Linked DNA regions of Homo sapiens. The protein of the gene in region 4 interacts with the protein of the main gene of each other region in a biochemical or structural test. Each region holds a gene or a part of one and is shown on either strand. Other genes may lie near its edges. The genes, in order: CREBBP, EP300, NLK and MYB.

What was found.
Region 1: the proteins of MYB (region 4) and CREBBP form a complex in vitro, tested with the Homo sapiens proteins (6 studies listed by BioGRID, with this or other methods).
Region 2: the proteins of MYB (region 4) and EP300 form a complex in vitro, tested with the Homo sapiens proteins (3 studies listed by BioGRID, with this or other methods).
Region 3: of the proteins of MYB (region 4) and NLK, one has a biochemical effect on the other in vitro, tested with the Homo sapiens proteins (2 studies listed by BioGRID, with this or other methods).

The regions. Positions count from the first base shown.
Region 1 is NC_000016.10:3,765,696-3,772,721, forward strand, and holds part of CREBBP (CREB-binding protein), read right to left. Parts: intron 5,292-7,026; coding exon 4,875-5,291; intron 3,659-4,874; coding exon 3,479-3,658; intron 2,215-3,478; coding exon 2,025-2,214; intron 1-2,024. UniProt on the Homo sapiens protein: Acetylates histones, giving a specific tag for transcriptional activation. Mediates acetylation of histone H3 at 'Lys-18' and 'Lys-27' (H3K18ac and H3K27ac, respectively).
Region 2 is NC_000022.11:41,088,492-41,095,617, reverse strand, and holds the start of EP300 (histone acetyltransferase p300), read right to left. Parts: upstream 3,027-7,126; 5' UTR 2,614-3,026; coding exon 2,520-2,613; intron 1-2,519. UniProt on the Homo sapiens protein: Functions as a histone acetyltransferase and regulates transcription via chromatin remodeling. Acetylates all four core histones in nucleosomes. Histone acetylation gives an epigenetic tag for transcriptional activation.
Region 3 is NC_000017.11:28,185,659-28,192,684, reverse strand, and holds part of NLK (serine/threonine-protein kinase NLK), read right to left. Parts: intron 1,665-7,026; coding exon 1,466-1,664; intron 566-1,465; coding exon 472-565; intron 1-471. UniProt on the Homo sapiens protein: Serine/threonine-protein kinase that regulates a number of transcription factors with key roles in cell fate determination. Positive effector of the non-canonical Wnt signaling pathway, acting downstream of WNT5A, MAP3K7/TAK1 and HIPK2.
Region 4 is NC_000006.12:135,184,282-135,191,307, reverse strand, and holds part of MYB (transcriptional activator Myb), read right to left. Parts: intron 5,406-7,026; coding exon 5,288-5,405; intron 3,475-5,287; coding exon 3,403-3,474; intron 1,518-3,402; coding exon 1,425-1,517; intron 1,182-1,424; coding exon 961-1,181; intron 1-960. UniProt on the Homo sapiens protein: Transcriptional activator; DNA-binding protein that specifically recognize the sequence 5'-YAAC[GT]G-3'. Plays an important role in the control of proliferation and differentiation of hematopoietic progenitor cells.

The DNA.
Region 1 (7,026 bases), on a different chromosome or scaffold from region 4:
GGAGTACAGTGACATGATCAAGGCTCAGTGCATCTTTGACCTCCCAGGCTCAGGTGATTCTCCCACCTCAACCTCTCGAGTAGCTGCAGCTACAGGCATGCACTACCATACCCAGCTAATTTTTTTTTAATAGAGATTAGGTTTCGCCATGTTGCCTAGGCTGCTCTCGAACTCCTGAGCTCCAGGCTAGAGTGCAGTGGTGCAATCATAGACCCTGAATTCCTGGGCTCAAGCAATCCTTCCCCCTCAGCCTCCCAAAATGCTGAGATTACGGGTGTGAGCCACCATGCACGCCCTGCTTTTCTAAGTTGGTAAGACTTGTTTGAAGAGACTGATGGTGGTATTAACAAATGTTGATTTTTTTTTGACACTGTATAGTGAAATATGTCAACATATGGAAAATCTGCAGAACTTAAGTGTCAATTGAAAAAAAAATCATGCAAGCACAAAAGATCCATTCCAAGTACAAGATGGATCAATGGATTCTAATGTCACAGACTATGAAAAATCCAGTGCTATAGATTCTGGTTCAATGTCGCAACTAACCTTTAAGAAACCTTCACTGGCTGAATTTTGGTATAGTATCAAAGAATATCCACAATCAGCTGAAAGGGCTACGAAAATACTTCTCCCTTTACCAACTACAGGATTTTCTTCATACACTTCAACCAAAATAACCAATCACAACACAGTAAATGCAGAGGCAGATACCCTTAATAACGCCACTATTCTTACTTATTTTTGTTTTGGAAAAATTGTTTTTCATATAAATGTTTTCTATGGGTGCCATGTAACAGACTATTTTAAATGAACTAAATATTTAAAAATTTTTCTCTTTTTTTTTTTCAGACAACAATCTCACTTTTGTCTCCCAGGCTAGAGTGCAGTGATGTGATCTGGGCTCACTGCAGCCTCAAACTCCTAGGCTCAGGCAATCCTGCCGCTTCCGCTTCTCGAGCAGCTAGAATTATAGGCGTGCACCACCACACTTAGCTAGTTTTATTTTAGTTTTGTAGAGATGGAGCCTTGCTATGTTGCTCAGGCTGGTTTTGAACTCCCAGCATCAAGCAAGCCTCCCATCTCAGCCTCCCAAAGTGCTGGGATTACAGGTGTAAGCCACTGTACTCAAATTTCTCAACTTTAGTTTCCAGTAGAGTAAGCAATGATAGATAATCCACACAACAACTCTCTGGGGCCCTCAATTTCTAAGAGTATAAAGAGCCCTGAGATTCACTGTACTCCACACTCTCCAGGGTCCCTTCCAGCTGCAGAGTAACATGGTCTCAGTCTCTAACATTTCTCTGCAATCTTTCCCAAAAGTGTCATCTGCAGCCTTGGACTTTCTGAGTCCTGTCTCCCATTTCTAAGGTTCACTTGACAATTTTCTGATACCCTGTTATCTCTTTACTGTGGATACATCTCAAATGGATTCCATCCAACTTCCACTGTGAGGCGGGCTTACCTCACACATCTCAGACCCCAAAGATGCCTAACCTACCCCTCCCCCATGTCTCACTACACAGGGTCCCTAGGCGCCACCCTGCCCCTCACTCTGCATGCTCAGCTTCCTCACTGCACCTGCAGAAACCTTCTGCCTCCAAGTCACCCTGTGCTGTCATAATGACCATCTTCCTTAAATTATGGCTTTTTTGGTTATTCTCCTACTCACATACATCACTGGTTCTTTATACTTTTATGAGTAAAGCCAAGCTCCTTAACCTGCTCAAGGACCCAGACACATTTCAACTCGGCCCCTGCCAGCACCATCAGAAGACAGCTCTGCAGCCTGGGTGCCCTCGGAGCAGCAGCTCATCTCTCACTCCTGCCATGAGCCCCACAGGCACAGGGCAGGGGTCCTGCTCAGCCTGAGTGTTTCTGCAGGGGAAAGTCTGGGGAATGGCAGGCAAGAAAGGTAAAAGGGCAGATAGAATTATGTTTCTACTTTAGCTTTTAATCCTCCACATGGAATCCTAACACCGTGGAAAAGCAGCATGCTTTAATAAGGTAATGAATAAATGGCCTACTTTTTTTGCGCGGCTGCGAAGGAGATGTTGACTGAGAGGCTGTGCCGTTACTGCTACTCTCTTCTTCCTCTTTAACTTCTACTTTCACTTCAGGTTTCTTTTCATCCACTTCCATTGGTTCTGATTTCTGCTCTGCTATGTCTGTTTCTTCTTTAACTTGGGAAGCTCCTTGCAAATCCTCCTCCATCATCTTGAGAAAAACATTACAGATAACATATGAATATCAAACACCTTTATGTTACCGCAACCTCACGGGAAGACTCTTACAAGCCTAAAACAGGTTTGTTAAAACCTTCCTCTAGTCAGAGTTGCATTTATGATTCCTCTTCTCTTCCGGAAGAAGAAATAAAGTACTTGGTGTTCATTAAGTCGCTTCAGCACAGAGTCAGTGCAATTATGGTCCTAAATTTAAAAGTGTTTTTTTTTTTTTTTTTTTTTTTTTTTTTTTTTGAGACAGAGTCTAACACCCAGGCTGGAGTGCAATGGCAAGATCTTGGCTCACTGCAACCTCCCCCTCCTGGGTTCTAGCAATTCTCCTGCCTCAGCCTCCCGAGTAGCTGGGATTACACGTGTGTGCCACCACACTCGGCTAATTTTTTATATTCTTGGTAGATATGGGGTTTCATCATGTTGGCGAGGCTGGTCTCGAACTCCTGACCTCAAGTGATCCACCTGCCTCGGCCTCCCAAAGTGCTGGGATTACAGGTGTGAGCCACAGCTCCCAGCCTAATTTAAAAGTTTTTAAATGTAAAACTGCTTTAAAAATTGCACATACTCAGATTTTTCACTACAGATATTTCTAATTTGGAATAAAAATCTCCTTGAAAGTTGGGGCAGGGACCAAAAGTCCTTCTCAGAGGCAGGTGTGGTATGAGACAGGAAGGAGCAGTGGGGACTGTGGCTAATTGGAGAGCCCACTACAGTTGGTGCTCACAACCAGACTGCTGTCACACAGGGATGCAGGCACAATGCTGAAAGCATCTCATTTTTCAAGAAAAGCCAGAAATCTAGAGTTTTATTTGCAATTTCCTGATTTTTAAGGTATTGTGTGGGCCAAACACATTTAGAGGCTGGATCCAGCCCACGGTCTGCCAGCTTTCAGCTTCTGCCATAGGTTAATTAGTAAATGAATCCACCACCCCTTCTGTAGTCTACCTCTGCAGAACTAGAAATGAATGGAGAACATAAAATAAAAGGCTGTTGGATGATTCAAGTATTTCAAATATAAGCCAGTATTCTTCATTTCGGGCAAAATAAACCCACCCCTCATATTTAAAAATGAAAAACCAAGCTGTTTTCAATCAATTTCCTATACACCAAACCCCGAACCCACATTCAAACAGAATATTTTAACTAAAGTCAGGGATACCCATGGCAGGCTCCAAGCCTCGCCCGAGGACACCTGGGTAAAGTTGCGATACGCAGTCAATGCATTCCTAGGGAGCGGCACCCACCTCAGACCTGGGCTCCCCTTTGGATTCACCAGGATCGGGCTCAGTGTCCTCTGCTTGGGTCTCCGTCTTCATTTCCAGCACAGGTACGTCAGGTCCTGGCTGCTGGGAATTGGTTTCTGCGCTGGCCACCGAGGAGGGGGTAGGGACTCTGTTATCAATGCTGGCTGCTGCCTGGGAAAGCTGTGAAAAAACCGAAAGCACTGACTTCAGTAAGCAAGGTAACATAAATGATCTTCAACTATGCTGCTCATGCAACCTACAATTTCCCATTAACATTTCTCAATACTGATCCAGCAGGTGCCCTTCTGTGAAACCGAAGAACAGGGGTTAAAGTAGGAATGAGTTCTAGAGGGAGGTAACAGCAGCCAGAGGTACAACTCAGGTCTTGCCACAAAGGCAGAGGAAACAGCAGAGCTTTTCAAACTTTGACATAAATTTATTTTCTCGAAGTTTTCTAGCTAAATCATGAAATCTCATATTTTGAAATTAATTCCCTTCAATATGGTGGTTAATGTGTATGGTAAAAGGCTGAATTATGAATGCCTAAGCACATCTGAAGGGAGGGAAATCAAGTGCCTACCCAAAGACAGTGTTACCCAGCCTGTGTGAACGGTAGGAACACGGGTGCTGGTGGAGTAAATGAACATTACACGAAGGAACCACTAAAAGAATTCCTAATTTGCAAATTCTTACTCAATGGAATTTTTTTTTTTTTGAGACGGAGTCTCACTCTGTCACCTAGGCTGGAGTACAATGGCGCAATCTCGGCTCGATACAATTTCTGCCTCCCAGGCTCAAGCGATTCTCCCGCCTCAGCCTCCCGAGTAGCTGGGAATACAGGCACCAGCCATCATGCCCGGCTAATTTTTATATTTTTGTAGAGACAAGGTTTCACAACTTTGGCCAGGCTGGTCTCGAACTCCTGAGCTCCGGTGATCCGCCTGCCTCAGCCTCCCAAAGTAGTGGGATTACAGGCGTGAACCACCGCGCCCAGCCTCAATGGAGTTTTAAGTAAACAAACAAAAGATGACAATGTCTCGCTCTGTTGCCCAGGCTGGAGTACAGTGGCGTGATCTTGGCTCACTGTAACCTGTACCTCCTAGGCTCAAGTGATCTTCCCACCTAAGCCTTCTGAGTGGCTGGGACTACAGGACTACAGGCACACACCACCATGCTTGTCTGGTTAAAAAAAATTTTTTTTTGCTGGAGACGAGGTCTCACTATGTTGCCCAGGATGGTCTTGAACTCATGGGCTCAAGTGATTCTCCCACCTTGGCCTCCCAAGGTGCTGAAATTATAGGTGTGAACCACCGCGCCTGGCCTGACACACAATTTTTATGGGAAAATTATCTTCTAAGAGTCTTGGCCCAAAAACAGCAGAGACAGAGAGGCTTACCGGTGTGCCAGGAGGCTGGGCGTGCACAGGCGTCGGCTGTTGCTGCGATGACTGAGGGGTAGCCACAGACGGGGGCTGAACTGGGGTTTGAGGCTGCGGGGTCACCTGGGCCTGGGCTGCTGCCTGGACTGTAGGGGTGCTCTGGGTTTGGGTAGCACTGGGCACTGAGCCAGGAGTCGGGGTGGGAGTCTGCCCGGAAGACGACACAGGAGTTGATGGCTGAGTGGGAGCTGCTGGCTGGGGAGGAGTCATCCCAGGTGGTGTCGTGTGCTGGAGAGATGGCATGCCAGCAGCCGTGGAAGCAGGAGGCGGTGTTGGGTGCAGTGGTGACTGTGTCACTGGAGGGCAAGGTAGCTGGCTGGCCTGAGGCCCCAGCATGTTGAGAGGGTTAGGAAGAGCAGCACCAGGCACCTGTCCCTACCAGAAATGGACAGAGTATGGTAAAATTATTTCCCCCGTTTGAAAATGTGATGAAACATTTGAAAAATTAAATGTATGAAAAAAAAATTTTTTTTTTTGAGACAGTTTCACTCTTGTCGCCCAGGCTGCAATGCAATGGTGCGATCTCGGCTCACTGCAGCCTCCGCCTCCTGGGTTCAAGCAATTCTCCTGTCTCAGCTTCTCGAGTAGCAGGGATTACAGGTGCCCGTCACCACGCCCAGCTAATTTTTCTGTTTTTAGTAGAGATCGGGTTTTGCCATGTTGTCCAGGCTGGTCTCAAACTCCTGACCTCAAGTGATCCTCCCGCCTCGGCCTTCCAAAGTGCTGGGATTACAGGCGTGAGCCACCGCGCCCAGCCAAATGTATGGGAATTTAATCACATTTTCTTGGGAGTGTTCTGCTTGTGAAAATTCATCGAGCTATACACTTGTAATGGGCACTCCTCAATAACGGTAAAACTACACACGTTTCTTATAGTCTGATTTATATAATTAAAACAACCATTGAAACTTATGGCTTAAACACACACATCTACAGCAGTCCCCTCATATCCACTCGGATACATTCCAAGACCCCCAGTCTTGGAACGCCTGAAACTGCGGATAGTACTGAACCCAATATTTACCAAGATTTTTGGATCTGACAACCAAGGTGGACACTCAGTGACTAAGAGGTGGGTAGTGTCTACAGTGTGGAAATGCTGGACAAATAAATGATTCACATCCCTGGGGGCACAGAGTGGGATGGTGACAGAATTCATCATGCAACTTGGAATGGCACTCAATTTAAAACTTTTTTTTTTTTTTTTTAAAAAAAAAAAGACAGAGTCTCGCTCTGTCACCCAGTCTGGAGTGCAATGGCATGATCTTGGCTCACTGCAACCTCCATCTCCCGGGTTCCAGTGATTCTCCTGCCTCAGCCTCCTCAGTAGCTGGGATTACAGGCGTGCAATACCATGCCTAGCTAATTAATTTAAAATTTATGAATTGTTTATTCCCAGAATTTCCCATTTAATATTTTTGGACCACAGTTGACCCCAGGTAACTGAAACCTCAGAAAGTGAAATGACAGATTGGGGGAGCTACTGTACATTGACCCAGCCTATAAGCTTCATGTTCTATAACATGTACCCAATGTTCTTTAACATTTTCTAAGCTTAGCTTAGAAAAAGGTATTTTTTTTTTAAGTTGCTTCTTCCCTGGGGACTATAAAATAAATAAATAAAAATAAGAATAAAAGTTATTGACCATAAATATATACATCCATAAGTACCCTTAACAATTAAAAATTTAAAAAAAAAATTCTCTCTGAAACACAAACACACACACACACACACACACACACACACACACACACGTTAGTTACTGAAAGAGAACTGTTTCAGTGCAGTGGTTCTATACTGGGGATACACTTCAGAATTATTTGTGAACATTTTAAAAATGATTCTGAATCACTGTTCTAGAGCAGGGGTTGGCAATCTCCCAGGGCAAACACACTGAGCTGCTTGTTTCTGTAAATAAAGCTTTATTGGCACACAGCCACCTCATTTATGTACCACAGCAGCTTCTGCACTACAAGAACAGAAGTGATGAAAACCAAGATTGAATGGCCTGCAAAGCTGAAAATATTTAGTATCTGGCCCTTTACACGAAGTTTGCTAATCCTTGTTCTAGAGAAATGAAATGTTATGGAAAGTTAAGAATAATCATTT
Region 2 (7,126 bases), on a different chromosome or scaffold from region 4:
AGGTGATGTGCCTCCAATAAAAGTTACCTGCAAACATATTACAAACTGCAGAATGTCAAAAAAAAAAAATTCAAGATATAATGGTACCTCTGGCCGGGCGGCTCATACCTGTAACCCCAGCACTTCGGGAGGCCAAGGTGGGTGGATCACTTGAGGGCAGGAGATCGAGACCAGCCTGACCAATATGGTGAAATCCTGTCTCAACTAAAAATACAAAAATCAGCCAGGCGTGGTGGTCTGCGCCTGTAGTCCTAGCTACTAGGGAGGCTGAGACAGAACTGCTTTAACCCAGGAGGCAGAGGTTGTAGTGAGATCGCACCACTGCACTCCAGCCTGGGTGACAGAATGAGACTCCATCTCAAAAAAAAAAAAAAAAAAAAAAAAATTACAATGGTACCCAACTTGAAGTAAGTTAACAGAGGGACAGTATTTTCTTTATACTCACTTCTCCCCTCCCCCAAACCCAGACTGGTTACAATTAAAAACCGTACACCAAAGAATTCCTGGAGTAGAATCTTGATTTGGGGAGGGGGGTAAAGTTAACCCTCATTACAAAATTTAGAAAAGTAACTAAGATAAACTCTTAGCATTATGAGTGAATGAATTAATCTCAATGTTGAGTTTTTTTTTAAACTATAAAAGCCCACTTAACACATTTAAAACTCTTGTAATTATTCAAAGATATTTCAAGTAGCAAAACAGACCGACATGGAGAAAGTAGTAGCACACCTGAACAGAAGTATTTAAACAATACAGCTCCAAGACGAAACTGCTCAAATCAGGACTACTCAAAGTACACAAAAAAGTTTCCCCTACGTTCCAAGTCACTGGCTAACTCCAATGTAAAATCGACTACCACGTTACACCAAAACTAAAAAGCAAAAACTACCACATTACACAAATACGAAAGAAACACCACAAAAATCTACAGGTGATTAAGTCTCTAAAGATGATCTAAAAAATGTTTCTGAATGGCACTTTAGTAGGTGCAAAGGAATACAACGACGTTTGTGTATGTGTATGAATTCTGAAGGAAAAAACCAGCTAAAAAAATCCCTGGAGACTACAGTACCTTCATAGAATAGGTACAGATCAAAGTTCATGCATAATCAATGTTACAAGCCTTAGGTAGAGGAACTCGCAAGATTCCTACTTCTCAATTTTTGCAGGTTAACTTAAATTCATTTCACATCTTTCTTATAAAAGCAACGAATTCAAAGCATTAGCTCTGTCTTCCCATTTTCACCCTCTGAAATGAAGCCTATTTAGAAACATGCTCTCGAAGTTCTCTACAAACTCAAAGGGTACATTTAACTCCATTATGCACTCTCACTGGCAGATGGAGGGATGACGCTGAGCCTGCTCTCAGGGAGTTAAAGAGATGCTCCGTAGTAAAGGGGAACATCTTGTGGACTGTCAGATGGCCAGCCATTCTTCATCTTCATTATCCCAGCAAAGAAAAGGTCCTTACCCATCAGGATAACACCATTAAACTAACTGTAAGAAAAGAATGAAGGGATGATGGAAGAAGTCTCCCTGAACTTCTCCTGACAAAGGAGCTAGTCCACAACTGAATGAACTGGTCGTAAAGCTTTTAAACGAAAATCTTGATCTCCAAGTATGTTTAAAAGTGTAAAAAGACAAAGACACACACAAACACCAAACCTAATGCACATTTTAAACTTTTGTACAATCAGTTCACGTTTGTAGTTCATGATTGGAACTCTTTCAACTTCTAACCTTGATTTCCAGGTACGTAACTCCACAAAATTGTTTATCTTATTTCCCCTAAAATGAGAAAGTGACTGCAAACTGCAAAGAACATGCCCCTGTTCTCCCAACCTAAAAACCCAGAGTTTCAGACATTTTGGTCTCACACCAAAGAACTGGGAGATGTGAAATGAACTGCGCTCCATATTGATTCTTAAAGCAAATAAGAAGAAAAAGGAAAAAAAAGCTAAGAATGGTAGGTAAGATAAAAGAATTGTTAAACTTCACCTCTAACCTGAAATCTTGGACCTCGCACACACAAAATCAAGATTTTTTTACACCCTATTCCTCAACAGAAAATATTCTGCAAAGGAGAGAAAATTTCGAAGAGTGGAAAGTAGAGGAAACACAGTAAGTACAGTAAAGAGAAAGGATTCGAAATTCATTTGCCAAGAACAAAAAAAATGAAACTTAAATTGCATAGGAGCTCTTACACACAAATGCATTGGCATTTCCCAAATTAAATTGCATGAGAGCAACAATACAGGCCATTTCTATATAGCACCCACTTACGAGCTCTAATTCCAGAACACACACCGATATGACATAGTGTTGCAATCAATGTATTAGGAGGCAAAGAAAATGGTTGGGCTACTGGACGTCTTCGACCAGCTCATTCAAATACCTTTAAAATTAATTAAGGGGCAGGGAACTAGAGAGAGAGGAAGAAAAAAAAAATGGAAGAATAAAGGCGCACCGAGTAGAAAAGATTAAAGGGAACGTGGAAGGCCGGGGCTGCCGAAACTAACCTGTGCCATCGCTGGCGGACGCCGAGAGGGCCGGAGATGAGAGTTTAGGCCGCTTGGCTGAAGGCGGCCCCGGTTCCACCACATTCTCGGCCATTTTTAATTCTTTCGGAGATACAAGCGAGGAAAACCAGAATCCTCAGGAAATCTCTTCTTCGGCCCGGGGTCCCCGCGCCGCACCCAGGGGTGGGCTGGGGGGCTCCGACGGCACCCGAGGGGGTGGGGGAAGTTCCTTTTTCTCTTCGCCGGGTCGCAGTGGCTGGAGAGGGATGCGGACTCGATAGAAAAGGTAAGGGCAAGTGCGAGGGGCCGGGCCTGGGCCCAAGCCCGGAGGAGGGCACAAGAGCACAAATTCGCCGAGCGCGTCCGCTGCGGCGAATTCCCGAGAACTCGCGGCTCTAGAGGCGCAGTCCCCGGCCCGCCACGGCCGGCCCCTGCCCAGCCGAGGTCTCTCGGAGCTCCGCCGCCGCCATCAACCTCTTCCTCCTCGGCGCTGTCCTCCTCCTTCTCATCGCCACAAGGAGGCGGGGGCGAAAAGGGGGGAGAGGAGGAGGCGACAAGAGACACTCACCTCCTCCCGGTGCCCCCTCCCGGGCCTGCGCCCCCACCCTCCGAACCCTCCTCCTGCCGCCGCGCTCCGCGCCGCCGCCGCCGCACCGGCCCCTAATGGCCGCAGAGAACTCGCCCGAGCCGAGAGCCAGGCTGGCGCCGCCGCCTCACATCGCGCGGCGGCCGGCGGAGGCGCGGCAAGGACGCCGGGAGCGGAGCTGGCCGGACCAGAGGGCCGAGGGGGCCGGGCCGAGCAGCGCCGCCCGCACGCCCGCGCCGACGCGGAGCCCACCGAGGAGGCCCCGCTCCGGCGGCGGCGCAGGCGGCCCCTCCTCGCGCCGCGCTCCCCTCCTTCGCCTTCCTTTCCCGCGGAAAATAAATAAATACGGCCGCTGCTACGGCCCCCACCGCCGGCGGCCAGGTGCTGGGAGCGCCCGCCCCCCGGGGCTCCGTTCGGGGCCGCCCGCGGCGGCGGGAGAAGACGCCGCGGGGCGCGGGGTTATGTAATGGTCCCCCCTAGGCGTCGACGCCGGCCCGGCTGCTGGACCGCGGTGGGGGTGTGTGCGGACGGGAGGGGGCTGGGGGTCGCCTCAGCCCGTGCGCCCCGGGCCCCCTGCCACTGTCTCGGCCCCTGCCGCCTCTCTCCGACCCGACTCCCCTCCGCACTCTCTGGCTCCCGCAGTTAGCACTCAGCCCGGCGTCCTGCTTGCCCACTCTCGCCCGCTCTCTCTCGCCCTCTCTCCCCCCCAGCCTAGCACACAAACAAGATGGCGGCTGTTGTTTCTTCCCTCTGCCGAATCCTCCTTACAGGCTAGCGGTAGCGGCGGCGGCCGGAAATGAGCCAAGGGGGGGTGGAAAAGGGGAGTGGCCGGGCCTCCGGAGGGGGGCGGGGCCTAGGCCCGAGCCGCTCACACAATGGGGGAAGTGGAGCCGGGGGCGGGGCCTGTCCCAATCACGGGATCCGCCCTAGGCCCCAACGCGGTTAGCGCTTCCGCAAACTCCCCCGGCGTCACCCTGTGGCTCCCTTTAAAGGGGAGGATTTTAAGAGTGGGGAGGATTTTAAGGGGGGAGGGGCGGGGGCGGACTCAGAATCTATTTTCAGTCGGTGGATAGTTACGAGGGAAGGTTCCTGCCTTTGGTCTCTGCGTAAGGGACCAGTGGGAACCGGGACGACGGAACCCCGGAGCTGCTCCGAGGAAGGCGCCAAGTCGCCACTCAGGTGGCCAAATGGGAGCGCCCGTAGGGCGGCCCTGCTCTTCGGCCCTTGGGTGGCGGGTCCCCCAAAACCCCGGTCGAATTCACCAGGCAGGGTGTACCCACTGCCGGCTGTTCCGGGCCAGATACCCAGTGCGTCCTCACTTCTCCATTGCCCTCCCAAAGGGAGCAGTTCACATCCAAAAAGCACGTTGATTACGAGTTGTTTTCATTTTCTCTGAATTTTCCTTTTCCTTTTTATGTATTATTTATTTATTTATTTTACAACGAGCATTATTACTCTGACCAGAAAACAAAATCACAGCAGTGGAAAGATGTTTCGGCACCAGACCCAAATTCATTTCTTGCCCTCCACGTGTGTCCATACGCCCTTACCAGGTAGCACTCTCACCGCAGAAGCCTTCAAGTATTTTCCTAAACATGGCTGGGACCTGAAGACATTTCTAGGGTTTGTCTTTTTTTTTTTTCTCGTCCGCTCCCAATAGAACAAGTTAGTAAAAGACCACGTCTAGCCATTGCCTTATCTAATGTAATTATGGGAAAAACAAAAATGTGGTAAAGGTAATGTAAGGATGGAAAAAAGCAAAAATGTAATGGTGAGAGGAAATGCTGGAATATAAAGTCTAGTGTGTGGGACTCCACAGTTTTGCAGCTGAGGTCGGAGACGTGCTTTCAGGTTCCTACACATCACCCTGTGTTTGGCCATGGGTAAATTGGTACTGGAGGAGGTGGCAGGGGTGTAAGTGACCCCGAAAGAAACCCCGAAACCAGTATCTACTGATACGGTTAAAAGCTTTTTCTCGGCCAGGCACGGTGGCTCACGCCTGTAATCCCAGCACTTTGTGAGGCCGAGGCCAGTGGATCACCTGAGGTCAGGAGTTCGAGACAAGCCTGGCCAACATGGTGAAACCCCGTTTCTACTAAAAATACAAAACTTGTCCGGGTGTGGTGGTGCACGCCTGTAATCCTAGCTACTTGGGAGGCTGAGGTAGGAGAATCTCTTAAACCCGGGAAGCGGAGGTTGCAGTGAGCTGAGATTGTGCCATTGCACTCCAGCCTGGGCGACAAGAGCAAAACTCTGTCCCAAAGAAAAAAAAATTTTTTTTCTTTTATTTCATATCTCATGCTCCGTAGCTGGTATTTGCAAATTGTTGGATTTTCTTTGTTTTTTTTTTTATATTGTTTCTGTTTGTTTTTTAAATTAATGTTGGGATGAATAAATAAGAACATAAGAGTGAAGATCCTAATGGAGCAATTGAAGTTGCTGACAGGGATGGAATCTGTCCTCTAATGATCAGGCCTAGATCACCCAAACTGCAGTAGAAAAGCAGGCAAATTGAACCGGGCGTGGTGGCTCACGCTTGTAATCCCAGCACTTTGGGAGGCCGAGGAGGGCGGATCAGGAGGTCAGGAGATTGAGACCATCCTGGCCAACACGGTGAAACCCCGTCTCTACTAAAAACACACACAAAAAAATTAGCTGGGCGTGGTGGCGGGCACCTGTAGTCCTAGCTACTCGGGAGGCTGAGGCAGGAGAATGGCGTGAACCTGGGAGGCAGAGCCTGCAGTGAGCAGAGATCGCCCACTGCACTCCAGCCTGTGCGACAGAGCGAGACTCTGTCTCAAAAAAAAAAAAAAAGGCCAGGTGCGGTGGCTCACGCCTGTAATCCCAGCACTTTGGGAGGCCAAGGCGGGCGGATCACGAGGTCAGGAGATCGAGACCATCCTGGTTAACACGGTGAAACCCCGTCTCTACTAAAAATACAAAAAATTAGCCGGGCACGGTGGCGGGCACCTGTAGTCCCAGCTACTCGGGAGGCTGAGGCAGGAGAATGGCGTGAACCCGGGAGGTGGAGCTTGCAGTGAGCCGAGATCGCGCCACTGCACTCTGGCCTGGGCGAAAGAGCGAGACTCCGTCTCAAAAAAAAAAAAAAAGCAGGCAAATTGAAAAGGACAGAACTTCTTTATCTTAAAGTTGTTACAGGATGAATTCAATGTGTAGGAGTGAGATCAAGATTGGCCTTCAGGGATAATTTTGTTATTTTTAATAGTTTATACCCATATTCAGACTAAGGAGTACAAAGGAAAGAATGTTGGTCGGGCACAGTGTCTCATGCCTGTAATCCCAACGTTTCAGGAGACGAGGGTGGGAGGATCGCTTGAGCCCAGCAAACATAAAGAGACCCCCCTATTCCCCATCTCTACAAAAGTTAAAAAAAAAAAATTACTTAGGCGCGGTGGTGTACACAGCACCTGTAGTCCAGCTACTCCAGATACTGAAATGGGAGAATCACTTCAGCCTGGGAAGTCGAGGCTGCAGTGAGGTGTAATCATGCCACTGCACTACAGCCTGGGCAATAGAGTGAGAGATCCTGTCTCTTAAAATAAATAAATAAATATTTTAAAAAACAAAGCAAAGAAATGAGAAATGTGGAGGACACCTGGAAACTTGCTCTGTCATTTCCTGGTGGGAGATTGCTTGCCCAGTTTTTTTTTTTTGTTTTTTTTTTTGAGACGGAGTCTGGCTCTGTTGCCAGGTTGGAGTGCAATGGCGCCATCTCAGCTCACTGCAACCTCTGCCTCCTGGGTTCAAGTGATTCTCCTGCCTCAGCCTCCCGAGTAGCTGGGACTACAGGTGTGCGCCACCACATCCAGCTAATTTTTGTATTTTTAGTAGAGATGGGGTTTCACCATTTTGGTCAGGATGGTTTAGATCTGTTGACCTCGTGATCTGCCCGCCTTGGCCTCCCAAAGTGCTGGGATGACAGGCGTGAGCCACTGCACCCGGCCTGTTTTTGTTTGTTTGTTTTCTTGTTTTTTTGAGACAGAGCCTTGCTCTGTCACCC
Region 3 (7,026 bases), on a different chromosome or scaffold from region 4:
TTTTGTTTTTTTTTTTGAGATGGAGTTTCGCTCTTGTTGCCTAGGCTGGAGTGCAATGGTGCGATCTCGGCTCACCGCAACCTCTGCCTCCCGGGTTCAAGTGATTCTCCTGCCTCAGCCTCCCAAGTAGCTGGGGTTACAGGCATGCACCACCATGCCTGGCTAATTTTGTATTTTTAGAAGAAACAAGGTTTCTCCATGTTAGTCAGGCTGGTCTTGAACTCCAGACCTCAGGTGATCTGTCTGCCTTGGCTTCCCAAAGTGCTGGGATTACAGGCATGAGCTACCGCGCCCAGCCCAGATGCTTACAGTTTTAATACACTTTTGACTAAAGCCAAACCTCATAACAGAAACTTTCTGTTGCACCTTTTATCTATGTTATCTAAATAAAAACAAATATGCTGAATAATGAAGTAACACTGGCATCCTTTTAATTCTAACAAGAATGTTGAATTACATACATATAGTTACCTAATAAAGCTCTTAAAAGCAGCAGACTGAGGGTTGATGCAGAGAGGCACTCTGTTTCCTTTCTGCTGTTCCAAAATGAACTGATGAATAATTTCTGTGGAGAAAACAAACATCATACAATCCATGACAATTTGCAAGCCCGGGAGCAGTGAATTCTCAGCGAACTCTAGCCAGCATCTGAAAAGCACTGCCTACTGGTTTAGTTAAATCAAACACACACATCATCTATCAAGCAGAATTCAGCTGAACTTCCTAAAACTAAAATGACAGCTGTTGCTAAATATAAGAAACCTACTGGTGGCATTACACAGACTGCAACCCCATCAGTGGGAAGAGTAAAATGGCCTATAAATTTGAGAGAGACTCCACAGGTTTGGCATTATGGGTGAACTCTTCTAAGTTGCTGGCAATTATTGCCTTTTTGAAGATCACTTAAAGACCTCAGTTGGTATCTAGGTGTATAGTTTCAGGTGGTTACTTTGGGGACTACTCTCTCTCTTGTAAAATGTCCTACAGTAGACACTAAAATCACTCAGAATTTTGGATGTCATTACTCCCACTGTATTCCAATAGGAGATCCTGCCACAAAATTTTATGAGTACACTATCAGAAATTCCCTTCTCTTGTCATCGTCCAAGGAATAATTCCCTCAGTGAATGTTTATCCTTTATGGAACTTTGTATGTTATATAAAGTTCAATACGTTTGAATCAATGAAATGACACTGAGTGAATACATATTAAACATATTTTGAGTCATACTCACTAAATAAACTTTGAAAATAAGAACAAAATATTCATTCCTCTCCCCGACCTTCCCCTGGATATAATATTAAATATGCTTTGTTATGCCCCGGACACACAGCTATACGCAAGGTTGTAAAATAAACATAGAGGGGAGCTTTGGTTACCATCCAGATCTCAGCTCTTCATGGCCACCTAATGGAAAATGTTACTAGGCATATTGCCTGGCCAAAGGCCAAAACAGATACTCACCTTTAACCTGTCGGACAGAACTGAGGTTCTTCTCGAAAGTGTCATCAAATTTGGGATTGGTGACAGGCTCAAAGTCACTGGTATAAACTCTTCCAGTGGAGGTGGAAAAGCAACATTTACACATACATGTGTGATATCGTAGTCGCCCTTCATCTAGGTAGGGGTGGGCTAAGGCATCCTTAGCGGATATTCTTTTGGACTGAAATCAAATTAGAGACCAGCACATCAACACTACAGATAAAATGACTGTCCACATAGGATCTTTCAAAAGACACATTAACTGCTTGACATAGCATATATATAATTTATAGTACATCCCGTCCAAAGAGGGATAATTGAATTTAGAGGTGGGTAACATAGCAGCAGAGGGAGTGTATGATTTAGGACAACTACTGTTATTATCTACCATCACAAAGTACTTAGAAGTGCCTTTCTTCTAAAATTCTAAGAAGTTACTACATTGAAATAGATGTATGCTGGGTCAAAAATCACAAATATCATGACATTTAACTATGTAGTGCTTTGAAGGGGTTACGTTTACCTTTTAAATAACAGGCTATATTTTCTAAATATGTGTCAGCATCCTGAAGATGCGTTCACAGTGGCAATTTTCAAAGTTGCTTGAAATTTTTATTCTCTTAGAATACCAAACAGATGATGGCAAAAGCTGCTGGAGTTAGGCAGCAGACAGTGGTCTGACTGCCATATTTTGAGATATAGCTCAGTCTGAATATCAGAAGTCTAGTCTAGCTTTTTGTTTTCTGGCACTTTATTTTTAAATTTTTTGTAGAGATGGGGTCTCACTGTGTTCTTGAATTTGTGGCCTCCAGTCTTGGCCTCCTGAAGTGCTGGGACTGCAGGCATGAGCTACTGCACCTAGTCATTTTCTGTCACTTTAGATCAGAATACTGAATGCATGAGTTTTAAGTTTGCCTGAAAATCTAAACTTTTAACATTACTCCATGAAAAAATTAAAGAAATTGTCCCTTCTTTTAGCTCAGTAGACATACGTGTATTACTGAAAGTAAATTTTAAAGATTTAAGGATGAACTCACTAGTACACAGTAGAACAAAAACAAGAACACACACTTTGCCCTGATTCCAATATGACCAAGCACTTCTTCACATTACACAATTTAAAAATGAAAACCACTTTTGTTCTCAGATAAACCAAAAACAACTGTTCTCGTTCCCAAATAATAATGAAATGTTTCTCATAAGCCCGGATTCCCTAAAAACACTTTTATCACTGATTTTTGCTATGCTGATGTAAAAAGGCATGTCATGACCTTTCAAGATAAGATAATCACAGAAGAAAGCGGGTGTTTATCTACCAGGAACAGGCAAACGTATACTTGATAACCTTGTTTTTTTTTCCTTTCAATAAGTTTATGTTTTGTATTTGGTGATCTAGCTCTTTTGAAGTCTGACTTCCCTGCATTCTTAGCAAGTAAACTTTTTCCTTTTCTTTTTTTCTAAAAAAGTCTGAGTCCTTTGATAGCGATTCCTAGAGATTCCACTGGGATAGTGTTCCACTGTTTGAACCCAAAGGAACAAGTAGGCTGACAGTGTATGTGCCTGATCCCAGGCCTCTCTGAGCCCTTGGCTTCCCTTTCCTTCTATTTTTCTTTAACTTCTGTTCATGAGTTTCAGGACAGAACTTCAACGGTTTATCCTTCTGTTCCTTTAGGTTACATACAGTGATCATTCCAACAACATACTTGTCTGTAAGATGCTTCACACTTACACCACTGTGCAGTTTCTCCAATAGCTTGGCATTCTGTGCTATAAACAGAAATGCTTCCTCTTTTTAAAAAAATCAGTTACCTGCTGGGTTATCTGCAGGACTTTTTGACATTTTCAACAATATTTTTACTCCAAAGAGCACAGAATAGGCAAAAAATACAGTAAATAATGCCTATAGGTCTTGGCAGCATGTGGGACATTGTGGGGAACCTGTCATTGGTGCATCTGGCCTGCAGATGTGCCATTTTATTACCCTTTGTGGGCACATTTGCATGGGGGAATCTGGATATGCTTGGGGAAGATAGAATCACAGCTGAAGGAGGCTGGGGGTCTTTTTTCCCTTGGGGATACTGAACAAACTGTGTGTTGTATGCCTGCTTTTTGATGGTGACCTGTCACTGAGGTCAGGTCATTTGTGGTGTCATGTTGGCACTCAAAGTTCCAAATTAGGGATGTTCAGCGTGTGTGTGTGTGTGTGTGTGTGTGTGTGTGTCTGTGTTTGTCTGTGTATGTGTATCTCACCACAGACACCTGCTCTTAGACTGAATCAAGTAATTGAGTCATCATTTCAGTTCAGGAGCAGACATGTGATGGCAGTAGACTGCTTAACCCAAGATCAACAAAACAAGAATAACTAGTTACCTCAGACTAAATGGACTAAATAAATACACTGATTTAATTATGGTCAATGGTCTGTTCTTCATGGATATTTAAAAAGTGGCTCACGCCTGTAATCCCAGCACTTTGGGAGGCCAAGGTGGGTCAGGAGTTCGAGACCAGCTTTGTCAACACGGTGAAATCCTGTTTCTACCAAAAATATAAAAATATATTAGCTGGGTGTGGTGGCGCACATCTGTAATCCCAGCTATTCAGGAGGCTGAGGCAGGAGAATCTCTTGAACCCAGGAGGTGGAGGTTGTGGTGAGCGGAGATCGTGCCACTGCATTCCAGCCTGGGTCACACAGTGAGACCCTGACACACAAACACACCTCATTTCTTTCTTAATGTATTGCTGACTTTCAATTTAACAGGTTAAAATCAGAACAAACCTCTCTTTAAATGGTTTCTTGTTCTCATTGAACTCTCAGAACTGGAAATAAAAAAAATCCTTAATATAGATCAAAAGCTAATAAAGCATCAGGCTAATTTAAAAATAGTTCTGTAACAAAGTAACAAACTTGTCGGCTTTGTTTATAACACAGTGATAAAAATGGTTAATTATTATGTAGTGTGCATTAAATAAATTAATTTCTTTCTTTTTGAGACAGGGTTTCCCTCTGTCTCCCTTGCCAGGATGGAGTACAATGGTGAGCTCATGGCTCACTGTGGCCTTGGCCTTAACCTCCTGGGTTCAAGCCATCCTCCCACCTCAGCTTCTGGAGTAGCTGGAACTACAGGCATGTGCTACCACGCCCAGCTAATTTAAAAAATTTTTAATTTTGTAATCCCTAAGTTGCCCAGGCTGGTCTTAAGCTCCTGGGCTCAGGAGATTCTCCTGCCTCAGCCTCCTAAAGTGCTGGGATTACAAGTGTGAGCCACTGTGCCCTATGCTCAGCCTAATTTCTTTATTTTTAAATGACTATGTAGTTACTTACATAGGTTCCAAAAGAATATATACTCTTCCTTACCAGATAAATCTTTCTCCTTAGATAAATCTTTATAACTACAACTACACCACAAATTTCATTTAATTAAGTGTGATAATCCCACTGTTAAGGAATAAGGACTACATGTCACATGTAGAACTTGTGTACAAAAGACCTCCCAGAAAAATGGGCTTACTACTTGCTCTATGGCTTAGGAAGTTCCAGCCTTAAAGACTGTAAACACTACCTTCCTGGCAGATCGGGAGCATTAATAAACATGGGATCTCTAGGCTGGGTGCGGTGGCTCATGCCTGTAATCCCAGCATTTTGGGAGGCCAAGGCAGGTGGATCATGAGGTCAGGAGTTTGAGACCAGCCTGACCAACATGGTGAAACCCCATCTCTACTAAAAATATAAAATTAGCCGGGTGTGGTGGCACGTGCCTGTAATCCCAGCTACTCAGGAGGCTGAGGCAGGAGAATCGCTTGAACCCGGGAGGTGGAGGTGCAGTGAGCTGAGATTGCGCTGCTGCACTCCAGCCTGGGCAACAGAGCGAGACTCTGTCTCAAAAACACCAAACCAAACCAAACCAAACCAAACAAAACATGGGATCTCAGAGAAAGAGGATGCCTTACAGCTCTAAACAGTGTATGCACACCTGGTAGAGGTGAGTTACATGGTTCTTGGATCCAAATCTAAATAGAAATAGAGAATAAAATATTTCTAACACATAAATTTCAATCCTAGACCCTTTATAAAATCCTCTATGGTCAGACAGAAATTACCTCTGAAGCCTGAATTTCACACAGCTCTAGTTTTGTTAACCATATAAAAGGAGTTTGTTTTTTAACATATTGATCAACATCTTCTGTTAGTTATGTAGATAAACTTACCAAATAACACAAAATATCAAATGATAGTAAATCACTAGCTCAATAAAGCAAGTTATATGATTGAAATTGTCCTTAATAGTGGGAACTTGATCACAAAGAGAGACTGTGGGAGCAAGAACTGCCACTTTGTCAGGCTTATAGTATCACTAAGCACTTCACATACCACATGGTATGGTTTGGCTGTGTCCCCACCCAAATCTCATCTTGAATTCCCACATGCTACGGGAGGGACCTAGGAGGTAACTGAATGATGGGGGCAGGTCTTTCCTGTGCTGTTCTCGTGATAGTGAATAAGTCTCATGAGATCTGACCAGATTAAAAAGGGGTGTTTCCCTGCACAAGCTCTCTCTCTTTGCCTGCTGCCATCCATATAGACATGACTTGCTCCTCCTCACCTCCCGCCATGATTGTGAGGCTTCCCCAGCCATGTGGAACTTTAAGGTTTAAGTCCAATTAAACCTCTTTCTTTTGTAAATTGCCCAGTCTTGGGTATGTCTTTATCAGCAGTGTAAAAACAGACTAATACACCACAGTAAAAAAACAAAAAAGAAAACAACAGCAAAAAACACCAAAATAAACACATAAGCAATCTAAATTGTACCCTGAGACATTACAAAAATAATTTGGGTCACCCTAATTGGTTCTGGTCCCCCAAATAAAAAAACCTTGACTGTTTCTCACAAACCTGAACTCCTTAACAGAATTATTTTTATCCCTAATCTTTGCTGTGCTGATGTCTGAAGCTTTGTGAATTTGATATCTTCTGAGAAAGTTGCAGCTTTCTCACTACAAATGGACCAATGTAAACTTAATAACTTTGGTAATTTTGTGGTTGTTTTATCTTTTAAATATCTGGTATTTTTCGTATTTGGTGACTTTGTATTCTTGGCAAGTTAAATTTTCTTTACTAAATGCTTCCATTTTTAAGTCTTCTTTGACAATAGTTATTGGCATAGATGTGAATAATAAATATTCTTTGGATGAATGAATAAATGAAGAGCTGAACTTACAGTATAATTTGTAGTATGTTCCAGAAGAGTCAAGTCCAGAAAGGGTATTGGGAAAAGCTTCCATCTCAACAACACAGAGCAAACATTTCCTTATGCAATATAATGGTCAGATTTTTTTTTCAAATAACCTTAAAAAACTTTGTGTCCTGGCCGGGCGCGGTGGCTCACATCTGTAATCCCAGCACTTTGCGGGGCTGAGGCAAAAGGATCACTTGACTCCAGGAGTTCAAACCAGCCTGGGCAATATAGTGAGACCTCTTCTCTACAAAATATTTAGAAATTAGCTGAGCATGCTTGTAGTCCCAGATACTCAGGGGGCTCGGGTAG
Region 4 (7,026 bases):
ATACTACTTAAGTGGGAAAAATGGGACAAAATGAGCTTCCATAGTTATCCCTCATAATGAGGTCATTTTCTTGCCTTGTTCATTAAAAAGAAAGCATTATTACCCTGACATTATTTAAAAACCTGGAAGTAGTATGAGAATTCAAGAAATACATTATTTCTTTAATCAATGAAGTAAAAAATTAAGCAAAGTGGTATAATGAAATGAATACTGGTGGCCAGGTATGGTGGCCCATGCCTATAATCCCAGCACTTTGGGAGGTGAAAGGATTGTTTGAGGCCAGGAGTTTGATACCAGCCTGGGTAACATAGCAGGATTCCATCTCTACAAAAAATATTTTAAAATCAGCTGGGTGTAGTGGGGTGCACCTGTAGTCCTAGCTACTCAAGAAGCTGAGGTGGGAGGATCCCTTGAGCCCAGGAGTTCAAGGATGTATTGAGCTATGATCATGCCACTGCACTCTGTCACTCATGTGTGACAGAACAAGCCTCTGTCTCTAAAAAATAATAATTAAAAAAAATAAAAGAAATGAATGATGGTTATCAGGAAAATGGTAGCTGAGTTCCTTTGAGTAACTTAACCAGCTACGTGAACTGCCAGAGACAAACTGTCTTCAGTTTCTTTCTATGCATTTAGAGTTTTATAGTTTACCAAGTCCTTTGACATTCATTTTACTTGATCCTAACACTGGCCCTGTATGATTCATTTTGGAAATGGGGAAATTGAGGCTGGGGAAAGCTAAATGTCTTCACCCAGGGCTCACTGTCAGGTGGATCCTGGAAGTTCTCAACCAAATAAACTCTAAGATGTCTTCAATCTCTAAAAGCTATGTAGCTGGTTTATCTAATAAAACACTTACGACTGATGAAATATAATTTACTCACCATACATTTAAAGCAGAATGTTCAATACCCACTCCCTCATTCTTCCCGATCAATATATTTTTTGACATATTATTACCGTCCAGGCAGTAGCTTTGCGATTTCTGCCCATCTGTTCCCCAGTCTCTTGTGTGCCTGGTAAATAATTCTGTCTTCCTCTTCTGTCCAGGAGGTTTTCTTAACTTCTGGATTCAAGTGGTTATGCCACCTCTCCCTACATTGTTTTCCAATTCTCCCCTTTAAGTGCTTGGCAATAACAGACCAACGTTTCGGACCGTATTTCTGTACAAGCTCTATCACCTTCAGATAAACACACAAAAATAACCTATGTTTTAAAGTTATGTAATGAGTCAGTATAATCATTCTTCAGTGTTACAAGATCTTTAGAAAATTTCCAAAATTTGCTTTCATTCACTGGAAATATGGGAATAGAGTCCTCTACTTCCTGTTTGCCCATTTTACCTGCTTCCTCAAATAGGAAAATATTAGCATTTTGGGAATATTCTTAATTATGAGTCACACACCAATGAAGAAAGAACTTACTCTCTGATCTTCTTCTTTGGTCCAAGGACCCTTGATGAGCTCAGGGTTTAGTACTTTCTGCCATCGGTGCTGGCACTGCACATCTGTTCGATTCTAGACAAATAAAGTATGCACCACCATAAAGATATGATGTGATAAGCACGTGAATTTTTTGTTGTAATAGGAATCACACATAGACCATATGCAGTGAAAATATTTAAGAACATTTTAGAGCATGTTTAGAGCCCATCTATCCCTCATTACTTACAGGCTACAGAACATGCAAGTAATATATCAAAGTTGCATCTAAAATTAGACACTCTGCCTCCTGAGGGAAACATTCCTGCCACATGATCTAAAGGACCATCATACTACACATGTGCCTGCCAAGTTAACCTTAACCTCAGATACTTTTGCAGAGTATCTACATAGCCTGAGGCTTGATAGAGATTCTATGTTGTCAGGCTTTCATGGAAACCACCCTAAAAGACTAAAGTTTGCTTCCCATTCAGACAAGAGATGTGCTTCAATCCAGGACCAAAGTATTTATATTGCAGAAAGAAAAAAGATGCATAAAAGATAGGTCCTATGTTACAGGAGTTTGTAAACTTATAAGAAGGAAAAGACAAGTAGATGACTGACTATCACAGATGCTGAATTTGATTCACTTGGAAGAAAAGACCAAAGCAAAATGATACTGAAGTGAGGAGAGAAGCATCTTCTTAGGAGGAGAAATGGTTTCCTTGGGAGGAGTCTTGAAGAGCTCTTCATAAGGACTTTGAAGGATGGACAGAACTTTAATTGGTGACATAAAGGGAGAATATTCTAGGAGGTGGGAAGACCAGGAGCAAAAGCCCAGAGGAGGTAAAGCAGAAATAAATTCAAGCAAACCTGCTTAGAGAGAGGAAGCAGGAAACAGAACTGGAGCTGTAAGTTGGGGCAATAGAGGAGGGCCTCTGTGTGCCAAGTCAAGGCAGTTTACTTAATTTGTGAGATTCTGTCACTGTGGTTGGTTTTGAAAAGATAAGGTACAGCTGCATTTTAGGAAGTTCCACCTGCCAATGGTGTTTGGGATGAATGGAAAAGTAGAAGACTGGCTGGGCACGGTGGCTCATGCCTGCAATCCTAGCACTTCGGGAGGCTGAGGTGGGCAGATCACTTGAGGTCAGGAGTTTGGGACCAGCCTGATCAATATGGTGAAACCTTGTCTCTACTAAAAATACAAAAATTAGCCAGGCATGGTGGCGGGCACCTGTGATCCCATCTACTAAGGGGGCTGAGGCACGAGAATCGCTTGAACCTGGGAGGCGGAGGTTGCAGTGAGCTGAGATCGTGCCACTGCACTCCAGCCTGGGCAACAAAGCTAGATTCCATCTCAAAAAACAAAAAACAAAAAACAAAAAAAAAAAAAAGAAAGAAAAATGGAAAACTACAAGTGGGGAAGCCAGTTAGGAAGTTATATGATAGTCCAAATGAGAGGGCAGGAGCCCAACCTTCAGCACAGCCATGAGAATGAAAAGGACGGGACTGACTATAAAGGAATTCCAGGGTCCTTAGTAACTGCTTAGATGTAGGGGTTGGGGGAATGTGATAAGTCAAGAAAGGTCTTCAGAATTTTAAACCTTGGTGCCAAAAGTATTGCTATTGACAAAAATAGGGAATTCAGGAAAAACTGACTTGGAGGAAATATCAAGTTTAATCAACTACCATGTAACAAATCATCAAAATACTAATTATCCTATAAATGAAAAGATAAAACAAGAAGCAACTGTTTTTAAAATTTGATAATCTAAATTATAATAATCGATTCTAATAATCTAAATTCTAATAATTTAATTATATGCATTATAATATAAAATATAAGTTATGGGTAGGGCATTTCTCCCACTTCTTAAATGTGAGTAAATTATACACTATCTTAATAACTCCTCCTAGAATATTTTATAGAAATCTTTGGGAGAAGCTTTCCTTTCGTTATAAGAAAAACTTACTAACTTACCGGGAGATAATTGGCAATAACTTTCCAGTCATCTGTTCCATTCTGTTCCACCAGCTTCTTCAGTTTTTCATCCTAAGACATTTAAAGGTAATCCTAGGATATCAGTTATTTACTATATAACTCTGTTCAAGTTAAAGTGAATGAGGGAACGAATCTAGAATAAAAAGTCTCTCTAAAGTATCCGAATACAGGAGATATTAATGTAATATACGGACTTGGGAGTATAGATTTATTTAGAATCAGACCAGAGTTGGCATCTTGACTCAACTATTAATTGTGTAAAGCGGGTATACCATTTTACCTTTCTGGGCCTTAGTATTGCCATCTATAAAATGGAAATTAACAGGGTTATTTGGGGATTACATGGGGCAATTTATTAACATGAGGCTGATATTAACAGGGTTATTTGGGGATTACATGAGGCAATTTTGCAAAACATTTATCATAATGCCTGGCATATATTGAGTGTTTATTATAAATAACTGCTTTACTCTGTTAGGAAAAAATGCATTCCAGTGCTAGATTCAGTACACATTTACCTATGGTAATAAATAGGATCTTGAGCAAGAAATAGAATATTTCCAGTTAGTTTAACTTTTTATAAAGAAATAAAGACCATTTTTAAAATTAAATTTGAAAGCTATATAAGAAAATCAGTTAGATTTAGATAGGCCAGATGTGTTAGAACATAAAAGACATTAAACATTTCCAGCTAATCAGTTCTTTTAGTTTATATGCTGTTCACAATCCTACCAGTTCATAAGTATATAAATGCATTCCTTCTTATGTTTCTGCAAAGGTAACATTCACACACAGTGGAGGTCCCTGGTACAATACAGACACAAGAATTAGGAAACCAATGTTGACAACAGAATTTCCGTATCATAAGGATTATCCAAGTGGATAATCTTAATAGGTAAAATATGAATTTCCTATGGGCCTCTCTGGGAATCCTACCTGCCTGTTAAAAGGAGCTCTGGTTTAAATGAAGCAGAGAACAGTGAAACTGAAGAAGAGCCAATACCATTTATTGTAACATGAATCATCTAAAATTAGTTGCAAAAATTTTAAGAACATTAGAGAAACTTTTCTCCACATATTAATAATTTTGCTTCTAAAATATTTTTCCATTCCTACAAAATCAAACTTTTGATAAGCCAGCCGAAAAAGAAACAGGAGAAGCAGATGTGTCTCCATCCATTATCGGATGATTTTAAAACATACCTTCATATAGATGGCTCTGTTAAGTATATCAAGGATATTAAATCAATACACTGTAAAAAGATGAGTTCTCTGAGTGTTTTGTTTTATTCTTTTGTTTGTTTTGTTTTTGGGAGTAGCAAGTCATTCACTTATTGAGAGAACATTTATTAATATCCTATTTTGGGTCCAAGCATTTGTGAATTCAGGAAACACAAAGATGAATAGACAAGAGCCCTGCCCTCAACAGACTTGCAGTCAGCTGGAGGAGGTATATATGTCCCAGCAACAATAAAGTAGAACATGCACCCATGCATGGGATCACAGGAGGATGCATCCAATCCTGTCCGGCGAAGCCAGGGATGGCTTCACAGAAGAGGTGATGCCTTCATGGGTAATGTAAAAGTAGGAAGAAGAGGTGGGACAAAAGGATGAGAACTCAACAGGCAAAAGGAAACACAGATGAAGCCTAAAATGAGAAGAGGACATTCAAAGAACTGCAAATAGTGTGGAAATGGATAATATAATGAAGTGGGGGGCATAGGGCACGCTGCACATGCGGGCTAGGATAAGATCTCAAGGAGCCTGCTAATGAGCTTGAGCACCTGTAGTTTAGTTGAAATTTTGTTTTTTATAAATTATACACTCTATCTATTTTCTGCGTCTTGATAAAATGATTAGTTACCTCTTCCCGGGTCCACCTTGTTTTCCCCAAGTGACGCTTTCCAGACTTGGGAAGCAGCCCATCATAGTCATGGTCACACATCTCAAAGTCCTCATCATCCTCGTCACTGCTATATATGCTGCAGAAATAAGAATGGGTAGACGTGGGCTGAAACAAGAGGATTTAGACTACTACTGGATTACAAAACTTACACAAAACTCCTCAACAATCTTTTCAAAGGTTATGAAGACAAAACTTTGAAAACTTGCACAACAAGATTGTTTGCTGCATTCTGTTGCTCTAGTATTGTAAACTGGTTCTGCTGTTATGGGTATCCACAGACACGGCCAAGGACCTGGCACCTTCCTATTCCCCTGCATGTCTGAACCTGCTGTTACTATTAGACCAGGGACAAGTTACACATTTGGCCACCTTCCAACCAGTGAAGGTTTAAGTTGAAAACTTAAGGTTAAGGATAAGAAAAGGAACAAGAACCCATGTCCTTTATATAAGTGCACACTCAAAATCTTTGGCATCTGTCACATCGTTTAAATAATATTTCTCAAACATAATAAACAATTCAACTATGCTATTCCAATGGGGTTTTTGTTTTATTAAAAGAAGAAAAAAATCAAGAAGTAGTACAGCGCAAAACAGAATTATAGTGATCCCATAAAGTCTAGAGGATTAGGAGAATCTAAGAGGAAAGGATTTTAAAACCAAAGCAAAGATAAGAACATTGAGTGATCAAGCTTTAATGTTTTGTAAATAAAATTAATACCAAATTGCTCACAACTCCAGGCCTGGTTGATCCAACTTGTGCCCATGTTTACAATACTTAGTTTCTAGAGTAACTAAGTGAATAATTAGGCCACTTGTTAGTCAGAGTCTTACTTACTCTTGTTTTTTCTGTCTCTGATGGAATGGTGTTTGAAATATTATAAAATGTAACCTAATCCAGAAGGGATTTCCCCAGAAAAAAGCCATGGATTTAAAAGAACCCATTACTATTTTCGAAAGCTTTTTCTTTTATTTAGTTAACCTAACCTAGGAAATTTTATGACTTTTGAAGAAGTAACTATATGCTTACTGTTTGTTAATCATAATCATAATGTTTGTTAATCTAATCAACTGATCAGATGACAATAATTTTACAGACACGGTTTATTTTATAGTTTTTCTTATAAAACTTAAAATAGGAAAAATACTATCTTAGAAACTTCACTAAAATTTGTCATTGCAATGTTGGGAAACCCATTAAACTAAGACCAATAAAAACAATGATATAAAGCCATATCATAATGTAAATCATTGTTTTTAAAAAGAAAAGTTATATTCATTACAGGTTTTGTCTTCCCAAACTAACTCACTGGTATGCATATTACCAGCCCCCTACAAGTGAAGCTGAAGTGCTTACCAAAAATCCTGAATTGGGGGTTCTCATAATTTAAAGCTATTATTTTAAGCAACAATCTGATAGTCCAGGTTGAATGGCGACATGATGTAATCCAAATTTAAAATACCACCACCACCAAATAAAATCCCAGGAAATATATATTTATAATCTGTAATAATTCCTTTCATTTAGTGTCTGTGTTTTGAAACAATAGCCTAGTTCTGTTTCCACTGTCAACAGGAGGCACTAAACAACTTCTGAACAAGAACTACAAAAATGTAAAACACGATATGATAAAGCAAAAAAAAAAAAAAAAAAAAAAAGCTATAAAGCCCAGAGGTGTAAGTCTGCATCTTTTGAAAGA